Regions from separate parts of the Homo sapiens genome. Here region 2 is linked to region 1. Evidence: fine-mapped expression QTL. Tissue or cell type: fibroblasts. Region 1 holds a variant in brackets; the other region holds the start of a gene. All regions are shown on one strand. Distances are between the middles of the regions.

Region 1 (8,104 bases):
GAAACCCCATCTCTACTAAAAATACAAAAAATTAGCCGGGCATGGTGGCAGGCGCCTGTAGTCCCAGCTACTGGGGAGGCTGAGGCAGGAGAATGGTGTAAACCTGGGAGGCAGAGCTTGCAGTGAGCGAGATCATGCCACTGCACTCCAGCCTGGGTGACAGAGCAAGACTCCATCTCAAAAAAAAAAAAAAAAAAATAGCAAAAGATACTTGGACATGTCATCATAAGAAATTCTCGTTAGTATTCATGCTTTTCATAAAATGATGAAATTGACCTTCACATGTCTTCCTTCCCTCCTCCACCCCCACCACGAGAGGGCATTGACTTCCGCCCTCTGAGTCTAGGAGAGGTAAGCACTGTGCATCAATTTAGTTTTACTTTCAGAGCTTGGTACAGTTTGGATATTTGTCACCTCCAAATCTCATGTTGAAATGTGATCCCCAGTGTTGGAGGTGGGGTCTAATGAGAGGTGCTTGGATCATGGGGTGGATCCCTTATGAATGGCTTGGTGCCATCCCCATCGCAATAAATGAGCTCTCATTCTGTTAGTTACCTTTAGGTTTGGTTGTTTAAAAAGAGCCTGAAGCCAGGTACGGTGGCTCATGCCTGTAATCCCAGCACTTTGGGAGACTGAGGCAGGAGGATCACTTGAGGTCAGGAGTTCAAGACCAGCCTGGTCAACATCATGAAACCCCATCTCTACTAAAAATACAAAAATTAGCTGGGCTTGGTGGCAGGTGCCTGTGATCCCAGCTACTCAAGAGACTGAGGCACAAGAATCGCTTGAACCCAGGAGGCAGAGGTTGCAGTGAGCCAAGATTGCACCACTGCACTCCAGCCTGGGTGACTGAGCGAGACTCTGTCTCAAAAAACAAGAGCTTGGGGCCAGGCTTGGCAGCTCATGCCTGCAATCCCAGCACTTTGGGAGACCCAGCCAGGTGGATCACTTGAGGTCAAGAGTTCAAGACCAGCCTGGCCAACATGGTGAAACCCTATCTCTACTAAAAATACAAAAATAAGCTGGGCTTCTTGGTGGGTGCCTGTGATCCCAGCTACTTGGGATGCCAAGACCTGAGAATCTCTTAAACCTGGGAGGCGGACAGGGGTTGCACTGGACCAAGTTCACGCCACTGCACCCCAGCCTGGGTGAAAGAGTGAGACTCCATTTCAAAAACAAGTAAATAAAATAAAGAGAGACTGGCATGTCCTCCCCTTTCTCTCTTGCTCCCTTTCTCTTGCCATATGACATGACAGCTCCCCTTCCCCTCCCACCATGATTGGAAGCTCCCTGAGACCCTCAGCAGAAGCAGATGCTGGTGCCATGCTTCTCTGCAGCCTGCAGAACTGTGAGCCAAATAAACCTCTTTTACTGATAAATTACCCAGTGTCCGATATTCCTTTATAGCAATACAAAATAAATTTATTCAGAGCTCTTTCTAGGCCTTTTTACATACATGCAGCCTTTTTCTTTTTTAAAAACATTAATTGGATCAGATTATACATATTTGTCACTTTTTCTCTTATCATTGATCTTTATTTACATGTGTCTACGCTATTTTTAAATGATGTAATATATGCCATAGTATATATGTACAAAGATAACAAAATTATTCCCCCATTGATAAGCTTTTAGAATGTCTGGCTTTTTTTTTTTTTTTTTTTTTTTAGATGGAGTCTCTCTCTGTCTCCAGGCTGGAGTGCAGTGGCACAATCTCAGCTCACTGCAACCTCCGCCTCCCGGGTTCAAGTGACTCCGTCCCTTCCTCTTGGTGTATAGATATATGACATTTAATCACACTTGTAGACTCCAGTAATCACCACCTCAGTCAGGACGTGAAACTGTCCTATCTCCCCAAAGAAACTCCCTTATGCTACTCCTTAATAGCCTGGCCCAATATGTTCTTCTTTCTTTTTTTTATTAAGATATAAACATGCATGATAAATTATGTAAATTGTACTATCAAACATATAAACTGTAAAATAAAAAATAGCTTAAAAATTCACTTTTACATAATAGCTTTATTGAGATATGATTTAGGAACCAAAAAGCCTACCCATTTGAAGCGTAAGGTTCAGTGGTTTTTAGTATATTTATGAGGTTGTGTAATCATCACCATAATCTAATCTTAGAACATCTTTTTTATTCCCCAAATAATCCCCGTCAACAGCCACTCCTCACCCCTCATTCCCTCGCCCTCTAACCCTTGGGAACAGCTCATCCACTTTCTGTCCCTGCGGATTTGCTTATCCTGGACATTTCATATACGTGATATTGTATAACATGTGGCCTTTCGTGGCTGGCTACTTTTGCTTAGATTCTTCCATGCTGTGGCGTGCATCAGTACTTCAATCTTGTGGCTGAATAATATTCCCAGGTAGGCATACATCACATTTTATTTATCCACCCATCATCAGTTGATAAACATTTGGTTGATTTTCACATTTTGGCTATCACAAATAGTGCTGCTATGGGATTTGTGTACAAGTTTTTGTGTGGATTTAATATATTTTCATTTCTCTTGGGAGACGGCCAGGGAGTGGAATCTCTGGGTCATGTGGTGACTCCACAGCTAATCTTTTGAGGAACTGCCAGATTGTTTTCCAAAGCGGATGCACCGTTTCACAATCTCACCAGCAATGAATGAGGGTTCCAATTGCTCCTCATCTTCGCCAACAGTTGTTATTGTCCCTTTGATTCTGAGTGGGTATGAAGTGGTGTCTCACTGTGGTTTCAATTTGCGCCTCTCTGATGACTAATGATGTCAAGCATCTTTTCATGTGAGATCTCTTTTCAAAAACTCACTTTAAGCCTGGTGCAGGGTGCATCCCTGTAGTCTGAGCTACTCGGGAAGATCACTTGAGCCCAGGAGTTCAAGGCCAGCCCGGGCTACATAGCAAGACCCCACCTGAAACAAACAAACCTTACTTTAACTCTTAGGTGGAGAAAGTATGGAACAGAGGCAAGTGTGGCTGCAGAAAAGCCAACCTGCCCCCACCAGGCATGAGAAGGCCAGTGCCGGGTCTGGACTCACTGAGGAAGAGAGGGGGAAACTCATAAATTAGGATCTATTTTGTAGGAAAGAGTTAAGAAAGGGCAATTCCCAGGCCTTGGGGAGTCTGTGCAGGCTGGGGTCAGAAGCTGAGTCCCTCACTTCCAGAGTGGCACAGTGTCCTTTACTCTTATTTAAGTCACTTCGTCTTGCCTTGTCACTTAGAGCACCACCGAGGGCTTTTAGAAGAGTTCCTTAGTGTCAAAGATTCGAACCTGCCATGAGGAGAGGACTTGGACTAATTCGATGTACAGTTTAGTGGTCAGAATTAGAGGCAGATTTGGGCTCCATACAAGGAAATTTTGTCTAATGGTCTGAACAATCTGCAATGAGCTTTACCACTCCAGCAGCTGTGAATCTGTCCACCAGATGGTGAGCTGTCCGTGTGTTTTCGAGGGGCTGCCCTCAAAGGAAGTGATGGCCAACTTGATGGATGGTGAGGTCTACTGTGACCCCAG[A/T]CTCACCATCCTTAGGATGAAAGTTGAGACTAGATACTGTATTAAGACACCCGGGTGCTTTCATATGGTGCTACAGTATCTGGACCCGTTAATGATTACTGATTGGGAGACAGTGGGTCCTCAACACAGTTCTGGGTACTCTGGGGTTGCAGAGAAGCTTAAGGATAACAACAGCTGACATCGTTTTAATGCCACTTTTTAAGAACCACACATTCTACTAAAGGCTTTAACACACATTAATTTAGGATTAAAAATATTTAATCCTAACAACAACGCTTTGAGGTAGGCACTCTTATTATCACTAATTGGCAGATGGAAAACTGAAGCACAGAGAGGTTAAGTAACTTGCTCAAAAACACATAGCTCGTAAGTGATCAAGCCAGGATGTGAATTCAAGCAGCCTGATTCCATGGCCCATACTTTTAGTTATTATACCACATGGCTAAGATGTGGCTGCAGGTAGATTTTAGCCAACCTGGAAAAACCTGCTTTCATTCTATGGAACCACTTAGAAAATACACAAGGCAACGTGAAATTCAGAGGTCATTGTTGTCACTTCTTAAAAGTGCAATTTGAATTGAGAGAGCACAGAGCTCAAAGTATGGCCCCCCCTGAGTTGATTTGTAGGAGGAGTGAGTAAAGAAGGCCGGATCTAGAGGAGGGGCTGTCTCAGGTGCATCCCAACTGGGAAGAAGCTTCCATAAAGAAGTGGGGAAACTGGAAGGGCCTTGCTGAGGTCTCCAATCAGCTTTAAAGATTTGAACCTGCCATGAGAAGAAGACTGAACTAATTCAATATAGCTCAGGGGTCAGAATTAGAGGCAAATTTGGGCTCCATACAAGAGAATTTTTTCTAATCGTCTGAACAATCTGCAATGGGTTTTACCACTCTAGCAGCTGTGAATCCATTCTGTGAATCGCAGAGCTCTAGAGAAGGTTCTAAAAGGAAACTCGAGAGACAGCCGGCAATTCCAGCATGCTGCGGTGCTGGAGGTGGACACTTCAGGCACTTTTTACTCAGAGACCTTGTAGAGAGAGAGGGCTCTGTGACCTTCCCGCCACTCTACTGTACAGAGCTCCTGTCTAACAAGGAGCCAGAGATCCATGTGCTGACATCGCGGATGGGCTGCCCTGCCCACTGGAGCCCAGCCCTCAGTGCTCTCAAAGACACAGGGACACCTGGCTCATTTAGAGGCTTCCAGGCTGGGCGTGGTGACTCATGCCTGTAATCCCAGCACTTTGGGAGGCTGAGGCAGGCAGATCACTTGAGGTCAGGAGTTCAAGACCAGCCTGCCAACATGGTGAAACCCTGGCCTCTACCAAAAATACAAAAGGGTGTGGTGGCGGGTGCCTGTAATCTCAGCTACTCAGGAGACAGAGGCAGGAGAATCGCTTGAACCCAGGAGGCAGAGGTTGCATTGAGCAGAGATCGCACCATTGCACTCCAGCCTGGGTGACAGAGCGAGACTCTATCTCAAAAAAAAAAAAAAAAAAAGGCTTTGAGTTAGACTCCAGAGGGAAAGCAGCCCCAAAGCCCACAGGGTGGCATGCCTGGCTGAGGACCAACTGACCTGTGGAGACGCCAAGGCCAGCCTTGCCGACCCTGTCTCACCTTGCTTGAACTGTGGTTCTCAAGCCCTGCAGGTGGTCAGGCCCTTGGAGTCCACAGCACTTGTTAGAGAACACCAGGCACTGTTGACAGGCCACTGGAAATACCATAAATGTCTATGCGACTGCAGACACAGCCACACCGAGTCCAGCATGGCCAGGTGGCTGCCGATGCTAAACACGGACATGCTCGTGGGAGCGGAAACTCCATGCAGAGGAAGGCCCAGCTGTTATTTCTTCTATATTATTTTTTTCAGACTGGGAAAATAAAGCCATTATTCTATCACCCCCCTCACCCGTGGAAGTTCAGAGTTCAAGGGAGGGGACTAGAGAGCAAAGGCCTCCAGAGAGCAGGCGAGGGGCTGCCAGGGCCACTGAGCCTCTGCAGGGTGCTCAGCCACCACGTCCGGACAGAGCTTGGCCCCTCTCGTCAGGCTTCCTGGGTGTGCCTCAGTGATTCCTCCCTGCCCTGCCCCACTCACACCTGTCAGCAGCCTGGTGGTGAAGGGGAAGCTTTCTCTGCTTAGCGGGCCGGGCTGTCTTTATGCCCAGCCGGACGCATCCTTGCTAGGCATTGAGTTGACAGTGCAGCCGCCCCGGAAAAGCTGGGGTCTCGTGCGCTGCGGTACGGGCATCTTCCAGCAAGAAGGGTGAGGAGGTCCCCAAGGTCTTTCCAGCACCCCTGGGAGAGACGGGAGTCTGTGAATAAAGCCTTGGGCGCAGCTGAACGAAGGACTTTTTCTCTCAGCACAACTAATGTGAGAACACTGTCACCTGCTTCCATCTCTGGGGAATGCATTTTCTGAACAGGTGCTGGCCCCGGCCCTCCCCTCCACACCACCTCTGCTTCAAATGGGAAATCTAAACCTCTCAAGGCCCAGAGGCTGTTTGTTTCTCTCTTATTTCTAAGGCATCCACCCATGAGTGCTAGAGAAACCTACCTTTCCTGCTGTTGGAGCCTTCTAGGACCTCCCTGTCTCAAAAACTATGACCAGCACCGTGCTCATGATCAGCGGGCTGGTGCGCAGTGGTGGGGATGGCCTTAAACCCCGACTGCCCAGGTAACACCCTCATTTCAGTAATGGCCCATCATGATGGCAAGCCTTAATGGGAGGTGTGGTGGGCAGAACGAGGAGCCCCGACCCCGAAACAAAGAGGCTCACCTCCTAATCCCCAGGACCTAAGCCTATGTTACTTTTCACAGCAAACAGGAATTCAGGTAGCAGAGGAGTTCAGGTTGCAATCAGCTGTCTGTGAGGCAGGGAGAGGACCCTGGAATATCCTGTGGGTGCAGTGTCATCACAAGGGTCCTTGTGAGTGAGAACCTTTCCCAGCTGTGTTTACAGCGGAGACACGGCTGTGAAGAACGCAGGAGGTGCAACGTTGCTGGCTTTGATGATGGATGGGGGGATGTAAGCCAAGGGGCATGGACACCTCTAAAAGCTGGGCACAGTGTGAAGTGGAATCCTCCCTCAGAGCCTCCAGAAAGGACTGCAGCCCTACAGACACCTTTACTTTCGCCCAGGGAGGCCGTGTCAGACTTCTGACCTCCAGAGCTGTAAGGTACTACATTTGTGTTGTTGCAGCCACCAAGTTGGAGGTCATTTGTTACAGCAGCAACAAGAAATCAATATGGAGGTGATTTCAGGCCCCGGAGGGATTCTGAGGGCAGTGGGCACATTCAGGAGTTTCAAGTCAATACAGTGGTGACAGGTGCCCAGCACCTTACTTCCTCGGGGCGAATTTGCCGAAGAGCGGAGAGAGCAGGTTTCAATGCAAAGAGGAAGAACCAGGAAACAGTCACATCAGAGCATCTGCTTTTGTCCTTGCCAAATGCACAGGCACAGATCAGCTTGGAGAACTCCCTTTTGTGTTTCTGGTTCAAGGAACGGAGCCCTCATTTCTCCCTGTGCTCGTGAGGAACAGGAAGTCAAATGAAAGTTTAAAAGGATGACGCGGCTGGAAAAATCATTGTAATCGTGAGTACTGTCTCAGGGGCAGCCTTTAGACTTTGCCCAGTTTATCTGTCACCAAACAAAGGATCATAACAGGGACAGGTCCATTGTGATCTGTCTGCTGGGAAGAGCCTCACAGCCAGGGTGGAGACACAGAAAGAAAGGACAGTTGGGATGCACATGGAAGGCAGACCCTCCCTCTGGGTGAACGGCCTGGCACAGGGCCACTGTAGGAAGATCTGGCACCTCTGGGCCCTTTTTCTGCCTCTTCCCTCCCTCAGGCTGACCCTGCATTTAAAGGAGTGGAGGCAGGGCCTGGTTGTCAAACTGACAGGCCACATACCCAGAGGGAGGAAGTCGCTCTCCAGTGGAGAGACGATCTCTGGCCGTGGAGTCAGTACTTGTGAATTTCCACCAAGCTCTGTTATTGACGATGATCTTGAGCAATCGTGGGTTCCCCTTGAGCCCTGGGTTCTTTATCTTTTTTTTTTTAATTATTATTATACTTTAAGTTTTAGGGTACATGTGCACAATGTGCAGGTTAGTTACATATGTATACATGTGCCATGCTGGGGTGCTGCACCCATTAACTCGTCATTTAGCATTAGGTATATCTCCTAATGCTATCCCTCCCCGCTCCCCCCACCCCACAACAGTCCCCAGAGTGTGATGTTCCCCTTCCTGTGTCCATGTGTTCTCACTGTTCAATTCCCACCTATGAGTGAGAACATGTGGTGTTTGGTTTTTTGTCCTTGAGATAGTTTACTGAGAATGTTGATTTCCAATTTCATCCATGTCCCTACAAAGGACGTGAACTCATCGTTTTTTATGGCTGCATAGTATTCCATGGTGTATATGTGCAACATTTTCTTAATCCAGTCTATCATTGTTGGACATTTGGGTTGGTTCCAAGTCTTTGCTATTGTGAGTAGTGCCGCAATAAACATACGTGTGCATGTGTCTTTATAGCAGCATGATTTATAGTCCTTTGGATATATACCCAGTAATGGGATGGCTGGGTCAAATGGTATT
Region 2 (8,104 bases), 740 kb after region 1:
ACAGAGTCTTGCTCTGTTGCCCAGGCTGGAGTGCAGTGGTGTGATCTCTGCTCACTGCAACCTCCGCCTCCTGGGTTCAAGCCATTCTCCTGCCTCAGCCTCCCCAGTAGCTGGGATTCCAGGCACCCACCACCACACACAGCTAATTTTTGTGTTTTCAGTAGAGATGAAGTGTCACCATGTTGGCCAGGCTGGTCTTGAACTCCTGACCTCAGGTGATCCACCCACCTCAGCCTCCCAAAGTGCTGGGATTACAGGCTTTCTTTTTTTTCTTGATACAGGGTCTCACTCTGTTGCCCAGGCTTGAGTGCAGTGGCCCAATCACAGCTCACTGAAGCTTTGACCTGCCGGGCTCAGGGAATCCTTCCACTTTAGCCTCCCAAGTATCTGGGACTACAGGCACACACCACCACACCCAGCTAATTTTTACATTTTTAGTTTTTGTACAGATGGAGTCTCCCAGTGTTGCACAGGTTGGTCTCAAACTCCTGGCCTCAAATGATCTTCCCACCTTGGCTTCCCAAAGTGTTGGGATTACAGGCGTGAGCCACCACACCTGGCCAAGTTTTGTTTTTTAATCAGCTACACTTGAGTTATTTTTCTATTGACTGGAGGCCTTAGAGAGCAATGGCAGAAAAAGGCAGTGGGATGCCATGCCAGGGAAGGCAGGAAGGGAAGGCCAGTCTGACATTTCCTGGCCCTTGCAGCAGCAGGGGTTTTCTGGAAAGTGGGTAAGAGAAAGATGAAGCTTAGGTCTAGGTTAAAATTGTCACTTTCTCTCCAACTGGGAGAGTGTCGTTCATTGATGTTTCTTCAGCTGGGCTCAAAGAAGAGGTAGCAGGATGCATGATGAGGCATGATCCTACTTCTTTTCAGAAGTCACTGAATAACATATTTGCTAAAAGGAACATGCTTAGTCATAAATATCAGTGGAGCTGATTTCACACTACACCACCAATTCTAGAACTTCTGCACTGATGAGAAACTAGCTTGAATTGTCGTCACCCTGGGGGCAGGAAAGTGGGGGGGCGGGGGTAGGGAGGCGAGACTCCATGTCCTCTGGGTTTAAGAGGTTGGACTTTAGAGGATTACATGCTTACTGCTCATTTCACAGGCACATTTAAGGCCCGACTTAACCCCACACTTTCTATTATCGATCCTTCCCCCACCTCACTCCTTACCTACCAGGACCATATACTTAAGGCACTCTACTAGGGACAAAATTTAAAGATGTGCTAAAAAGTCTCAGTAATCAAATCATGCAAAATTTATTTTAATTGAAAATTTTTAAGTCAGTTTTTATGAGGTGACTTCTGAAAAGAAATGGGATCGTTTTCATTGTGCATCTTGCTACCTCCTCTTTGTGTTTTTTTTGTTTTTATTTTGTTTTGAAAAGATGCAGTCTTGGTGTGTCGCCCAGGCTAGAGTGCATGGAGTGCAGTGACGTGATCTCAGCTCACTGCAACCTCCACCTCCTGGATTCAACCGATTATGCTCCCTCAGCGTCCCAAGTAGCTGAGACTACAGGCATGCACCACCAAGCCCAGCTAATTTTTGTATTTTCAGTAGGGATGGAGTTTCACCATGTTGGCCAGGCTGGTCTCAAACTCCAGACCTGGAGTGATCCGCCCGCCTCGGCCTCCTAGAATGTTGGGATTACAGGTGTGAGCCACCGCCTGGCCGCTACCTCCTCTTTTTTTTTCTTTTCTTTTTTTTTTTTGAGACGGAGTCTTGCTCTGTCTCCCAGGCTGGAGTGCGGTGTGGCACCATCTCAGCTCACTGCAACCTCCGCCTCCCGGGTTCAAGCAATTCTCCTGCCTCAGCCTCCTGCGTAGCTGGGATTACAGGCACGCTCCACCACACCTGGCTAATTTTTGTATTTTTAGTAGGGACGGGGTTTCACCACGTCGGTCAGGCTGGTCTCGAACTCCTGACCTCGTGATTCGCCCGCCTCAGCCTCCCAAAATGTTGGGATTACAGGTGTGAGCCACCGCGCCCGGCCGCTACCTCCTTTTTGAGCCCAACTAAAGAAACATCAAGGATTGATACCCTCCCAGTTGAAGAGAAAGTGACAACTTTAACCCAAATCTCACCTTCCTCTTACTTTCTCTTTCCCATTTTCCAGCTGCCAAACTAAGGGCAGCTGCTGTCAGTTTTTGTAAATAAAGTTTCCAGGGCTGGGATTAGAGCGAGAGAAGAGAGGCAGGATTGTGAAAGGTCAGGAGTGGATACTCAATCAAAATTTTTTATATTTTGTTCATTACGGATTTTTTAAATTAATTTTGATTTTTAAAAATATTGCACTAAAATGTTTATGTTGATTATTGAGGTTTTTTTATTTTGTGAACCCATAAAATTTGCAACTGACAGTACCCTGTCCAGGTCCAGTAAAAATACCTAGGAGTCTACAAAAATCTACCCACGACTCACTGGACCTCAGGTACATATCCCCCCCCGCCCCCATGAAGTCTCCATAAAGTGTCCCAGTGAGTTTTAATGTTCTCTCCTGTCTTTCCATGCACGTGTATTAAGATGCATTGCCTTCTGATTAGTGTTTTCCACTTCGAACAGCGGGAATGCCTCGACCACGCCTGTCTTCAAATTTCTGCTCTAGTTAAGAAACGATCTCAGGCCGGGCACGGTGGCTCACGCCTGCAATCCCAGCACTTTGGGAGGCTGACGCGGGCGGATCACCTGAGGTCAGGAGTTCGAAAAGAGCCTGACCAACATGGTAAAACCCCGTCTCTACTAAAAATACAAAATCAGCCGGGTGTGGTGGCGTATGCCTGTAATCCCAGCTACTTGGGAGGCTGAGAAGGGAGAATCACTTGAACCTGGGAGGCAGAGGTTGCAGTGAGCCGAGATCGTCTCAAGAAAAAAAAAAAAAAGAAAAAAAAGAAACGATCTCTTCCCTTCTCAAAGTTATATACATTTCACTATTCGCCAACCACCTCCTCCACGCCGTCCAGAGCTGAGCTGACACGCAGCGAAGTCCTCTCAGTGGTCCCTCCGCACCTCAGCCCTGTGCTTGGCAGCGAGACGAGTGACAGGGCCGCCCCAGCATGGGTCTCCCGGGCCGCGGACCCGCCCCACGCCGTATCCAGCACGCTGTCCTCCCGCCCCATCTTTGTGCCGGCCATCGTGTGGTCGCGTCTGCGCGCTCCGCCCGGTCTGCCGGCGTGAGAAAGAGCTCGTGTCGTTCCCAAGTTCAGACCAGAGGGGACGGCGAAGCGCGAAAAAGTTCCCTGCGCCCAGTACGCAGGCGCAGCCGTGCTCCTGGGCTTCCCGGGCCTCGTCCCAGCTGGCGCGCCCGGCGCTCCTCCGCCAGCGGGCAGTTGGGGGCGCTGCAGGGAGGGCACCCGAGCGGGTTGGGGGCGCTCGGAAGGGTGGCTTGCAAGGTCCGGGTAGCTGCAGTCCCCGGAGTGGGGCGGAGAGGCGCGGCACCGCGCGGACGAGGATGGGGCGGGGGCGGGCGCAGCCCGAGGGTGCAGGCACGATAAGGCGGGTGACAGCCAGCGGGGAGGGGCGGGCGCCACCGCGTCCACGCCCTTTGCTCGGGGCCGGGCCGGGAGGGTCCTCGGGCTTTGCGCGCGCCTGGCCGGCGGGCTGAGGCGTACGGGTCGCACGCAGCGCCATGCGAGGCCCCCCTGCCTGGCCGCTGCGGCTGCTCGAGCCACCGAGCCCTGCCGAGCCAGGTCGGCTCCTGCCGGTAGCCTGCGTGTGGGCCGCGGCCAGCCGCGTTCCCGGGTCCCTATCGCCGTTCACTGGCCTGAGGCCGGCGCGGCTATGGGGCGCGGGGCCCGCGCTGCTCTGGGGCGTTGGAGCCGCGCGCCGCTGGAGGAGCGGCTGCCGGGGCGGGGGTCCGGGCGCCTCGCGGGGCGTCCTGGGCCTCGCGCGGCTCCTGGGGCTGTGGGCTCGCGGCCCCGGCAGCTGCAGGTGCGGGGCTTTTGCCGGGCCAGGCGCTCCTCGGCTCCCGCGCGCCCGGTTCCCGGGCGGTCCCGCAGCCGCTGCCTGGGCAGGGGACGAGGCCTGGCGGCGCGGGCCGGCGGCGCCTCCCGGGGACAAGGGGCGGCTGCGCCCCGCAGCGGCCGGACTCCCGGAGGCCCGGAAGCTCCTGGGGCTGGCGTACCCTGAGCGCCGGAGGCTGGCAGGTAGGGTCCTCCCCGGCCACTTCCCTCCGCCGGGCCTCTCCTTCTCCACACGCGGGGTCCCGGGGCGCCGAGAGGGACACGGCCGGGCCGCAGAGCGCGTGTCACCGCCGCCTCTCCTGGGCCACTCCTAACCCCGGAGGAGGGAGGGGATCGCTCACCTCAGAGTAGCGTTGTCAAGATTTCGCCTTAGCTGGGGACTCGTTTGCAGATTTTACACTTGTTTTCTTGTTGACACACGTTATATATGTCATTATTGGAATCTTTGGGTCTGTTCCACCACCAACTTAGTGGGAGCATCTGTTTTGGCTTAGGCAGCAAAATGAGCTGGAGGTTTTTCCTTGGAAAAAAAAATTCTAGCCAAAAATATGCCTATTTTGTTATTAGGCGTTTATACTTTTTTTTTTTAACCAAAAACACATTATTTGCTTCAAGCGAGTCTGTCAAGCAGTCACCAATGCTTTCACAGCGGAAAGCAAAACTTTCAGACTTGTCTCTTGTGCAGGAAGTTACAGCACTGTGTTCAACAGGCCACACCAGTGATCTGTTCAGTAATTGAGTAACTTTTTTAAAAGAAGCCAAAATGAATGTTTTTAGAAACAAAATTTAAATAGGACAGTTTTCTATAGCTCCTCATTTTTTAGCCATAATTGGAGGAGTGTTTAGATGCAAGGGCCTTGTAAGATCTAAAATTTTTTCGATTTCTCTAAATCTTCACTCCTTCTATAAACATCTGTTGAGCCCTCATTCTGGACTGGGCCCTGGGTTTACAGTGGCATGCACAAGGAAACATGGTCCTCACTTCTGCTGGGGCTTCTAGGTTAGTGGGGAGAAGCATCTATGAAATATTCGTATGTATAGAGGTAAACCTGCACCTGTGGGCTGTGGAAGGGGGCCTGTGGGGCCTGTGAGGTTGTCAGGTGCAACACCAGAAAAGCATTCTTTGCTGCAAATCCATTGCTTTAGAAAGGACCCTCCTGGGTAGTGATTTGGGATTTAGAGTAGGTTTGCACAGTGGAGGAGAGCAGTTAGGGTGGCGACTTTTCATCTACCAGTTGCTATGAAAGCTTAGGGGGCTGTTGATATCACTCGGGTGTAAAGAGAATTATTTCATTGTTCAGTTGGTTGAGTGTAGATTTTGTTGTAAAATATCTTTTTCTCTTTCCTCTTTTTAAAAACATTGGAGACTAGGAGCTCTCACTGGACTTTGAGCTGCTTGAGACGGGGACTGTGCGATTCATCTTTCTGTCTCTAGTTCTTAGCATGTGCACGGCACAGAGCAGGCGCTCAGAGTGCCTTCAGTGAAGGAATAAATGACCATACCACCAGGCACAGAGTGAGGCCTTTAGAAACCCTGAGCATCATCGGGTGCGCCCACCACTTCTGTATGTGACTCAAAGTAAGTGTAAGGAAATCCAGTTCTGTTTTGTTTCTGAAATACTAGATGTCAGGAAGGGTGTTTAGGTGTCAGGCTTTGGTGGCCTACACGTGCCCAGTCCTCTTATGCCATGACCATTGTTCCTGTGACCCCTCACTCTGTCCCCAGATATCCTGCCATGCTAGTATGTTTTGGTGACAGCCTTAAACAAGACGAGACTGCCTCCTTTTTTCTTTCTTCTTTTGTTTTTCTGGGATAGGGGTCTCACTGTGTTGCTGAGACTTGTGTTGAACTCCTCAGCTCAAGCAGCTCTGCCTCTACCTCCTGAGTAGTTGGGACTACAGGCATGTGCCACCACACCCAGCTCGTACCTTTTTTTTTTTTTTTTGAGATGGAGTTTTGCTCTTGTTGCCCAGGCTGGAGTGCAATGGCGTGATCTCACCTCACCGCAACCTCCGCCTCCCGGGTTCAAGCGATCTTCCTGCCTCAGCCTCCCAAGTAGCTGGGATTACAGGCATGTGCCATCATACCCGGCTAATTTTGTATTTTTGGAGACAGAGTTTCTCCATGTTGGTCAGGGTGGTCTCGAACTCCCGACCTCGGGTGATCTGCCCACCTTGGCCTTCCAAAGGTGCTGGGATTACAGGTGTGAGCCACTGCACCCGGCCTTCTTTTTATTTTAAGAACAGAATATATTTTGTTCCACCACATTGAGAAATTATGAATATATAATTTGAAGAAACAAGCCTAGGGTTGGCACACTATTTTTTTTTTTTTTTTTGCTTTTCAAACAGATAAATACATATTGTATGTTATGAGGATAAGGATATCTGATAAAAAGCCCTTATTTAGATGTATGATTTCCTGAGAAGTTATTATATATTAAAGCCAGTTAGGATTAAGAGGAAGTGGTGGTCATTGTTAATTTGTAATTAAAAAAAAATGTGTAATTTATCATTCTAAGAGCAGCCTGAGGTGTTGGCACATCTCTTTGAAATGCTGGAGGTAAAGAGCAATTGCGTGTGTGTATTTTCTAATCAAAACACTAAAAAAGCTGAGCTGAAAAGGAATTCCAATGTTAATTTGTTAATTTTTAGAAAAATACAAAAATCTTTTTTCAAAAATGCAGCTTTATATTTTAATAATAATACCTCCATCTGTCTCAGCATTTTGCTGGGTATGCCTCCTAAACTGTGTGAACAGAAAACTTTGATTGCATCAGAAACTTTAAAAACACAGTCTACCATGAAATATGTACAGACGTGTGCTGAAAGCAGCTTTAGCATAACTGTGTTACATTCCTCTTCTAAAGGAAGGCCTAAGCCGCCCCTTTGGGGAGGAATTCGCAGCTGTCTTCATACAGATGTAAGGTCCCTTTTCACTGATAATTCTCCATCGTATCACTTTGGCCAGAAGGACTCTTAAAAGATGCAGGTGCTTGAGGAGGAGCAGGGTGTGGATTGATGGGATAAGCGACACTTCATCAGAACCGTCTGGCTGTGCCTGGCAGATAGATGAGGCTCTGACCTGAGTGAGTTAGGGGCAGGGTTTTAGGAGCAAATGTGGGCCCCTACAGTACTGTGAGATTAGGGCAAAGCTGCCTCCTGGAGGTTTTTTGTGTGGGGGGCTTCGGCGGGGTGGGCAGCATGCCTTCATTAAACTGTGGACTGCACACATGTATCCCCTCCGCTGGGGCATGTTCAGTTGGTGCCTGTGTGGAGGACTCAGGAGGGCTCCTCTCACTGCAGTTACTGATAAGGGGCTGGTGTGTGGTTTGAGGGCAGGACTGCTCTGAGAACCTGAAGCCTGCTGGCAGCTTTTGCTGAGTTTGTAGTTGCATTTTATGAAGATGGGCCGTGAGTGACCACAGTGAATATAGTGACAAAAGCAGTGGGTATGGTGGGCAAGGAGGCCAGAGTAGCTACTTCCTGAAGCCCAGTGAGGATGGAGATCCCGCAGGGACAGTGCCCTGTGGGGGCTGGGATGGATGAACCTTTGAAATCGGAACTGCCCCCGAAAGCCAGGGATGTGCGTGTGCTACAGAAATACATTGTTTCAGCGAAACTGAGCATTCTGTAGCTGTGCTGTCACATCAGATTCCAGAAGGACAGTAGAGAAAAAATGTAAAATATCTTACTAATTTTTTATGTTGATCATGTGTGGATAATATTTTGGATATATTGGGTCAAGTAAAATGTTATTAAAATTAATTTTACGTATTCCTTTTTATAATGTGGCAACTAGAGAAGTTTAAATTACCTAGGTGGCTCCCATCGTATGTCTGTTAGAGTCCATGGCGAACCCTCCTGTGGTTCATGGGACAGGTACCCCTAACTGTTTTATTTTAATTTTGTCTTTGGGATACTCCTAACTCTAGAGCATGCTAATAGCATGGACAGAGACAGTCTGATCTTGCACCAGACACATGGGGGCTCAGATCTTTCTTCTCCAGATTTCCAGAACCTGGAGTCCCTGGCTTCTTCCTCTACTCCCTTCTCATCTGTCAGCCGCTCATGTCCTCACTCATTCTCTACCCAGCGCAGATGCCGAGTCTCTTCACTCAGCCTCCATCTCCCCC

Evidence for each region. PIP is the estimated chance that this variant, and not a neighbour inherited with it, causes the effect.
Region 2: ABCB10 starts here. The variant in region 1 is fine-mapped to the expression of ABCB10 in fibroblasts (GTEx, PIP 0.99).

Annotation. Positions count from the first base shown.
Region 1 is chr1:230,298,602-230,306,705 of GRCh38, reverse strand. No RefSeq gene overlaps it. Among named protein-coding and RNA genes, the nearest start is that of PGBD5, 120 kb to the left of the region's middle. RefSeq lists a silencer at 305-394. The variant A/T (reference allele first, on the strand shown) is at 3,511.
Region 2 is chr1:229,554,183-229,562,286 of GRCh38, reverse strand. ABCB10 (ATP binding cassette subfamily B member 10) reads left to right here and starts at 3,580. Exons shown (of 13, transcript NM_012089.3): 1 at 3,580-4,151. The coding sequence starts at 3,635. RefSeq lists an enhancer at 2,801-2,990 and silencers at 3,161-3,860, 3,921-4,370.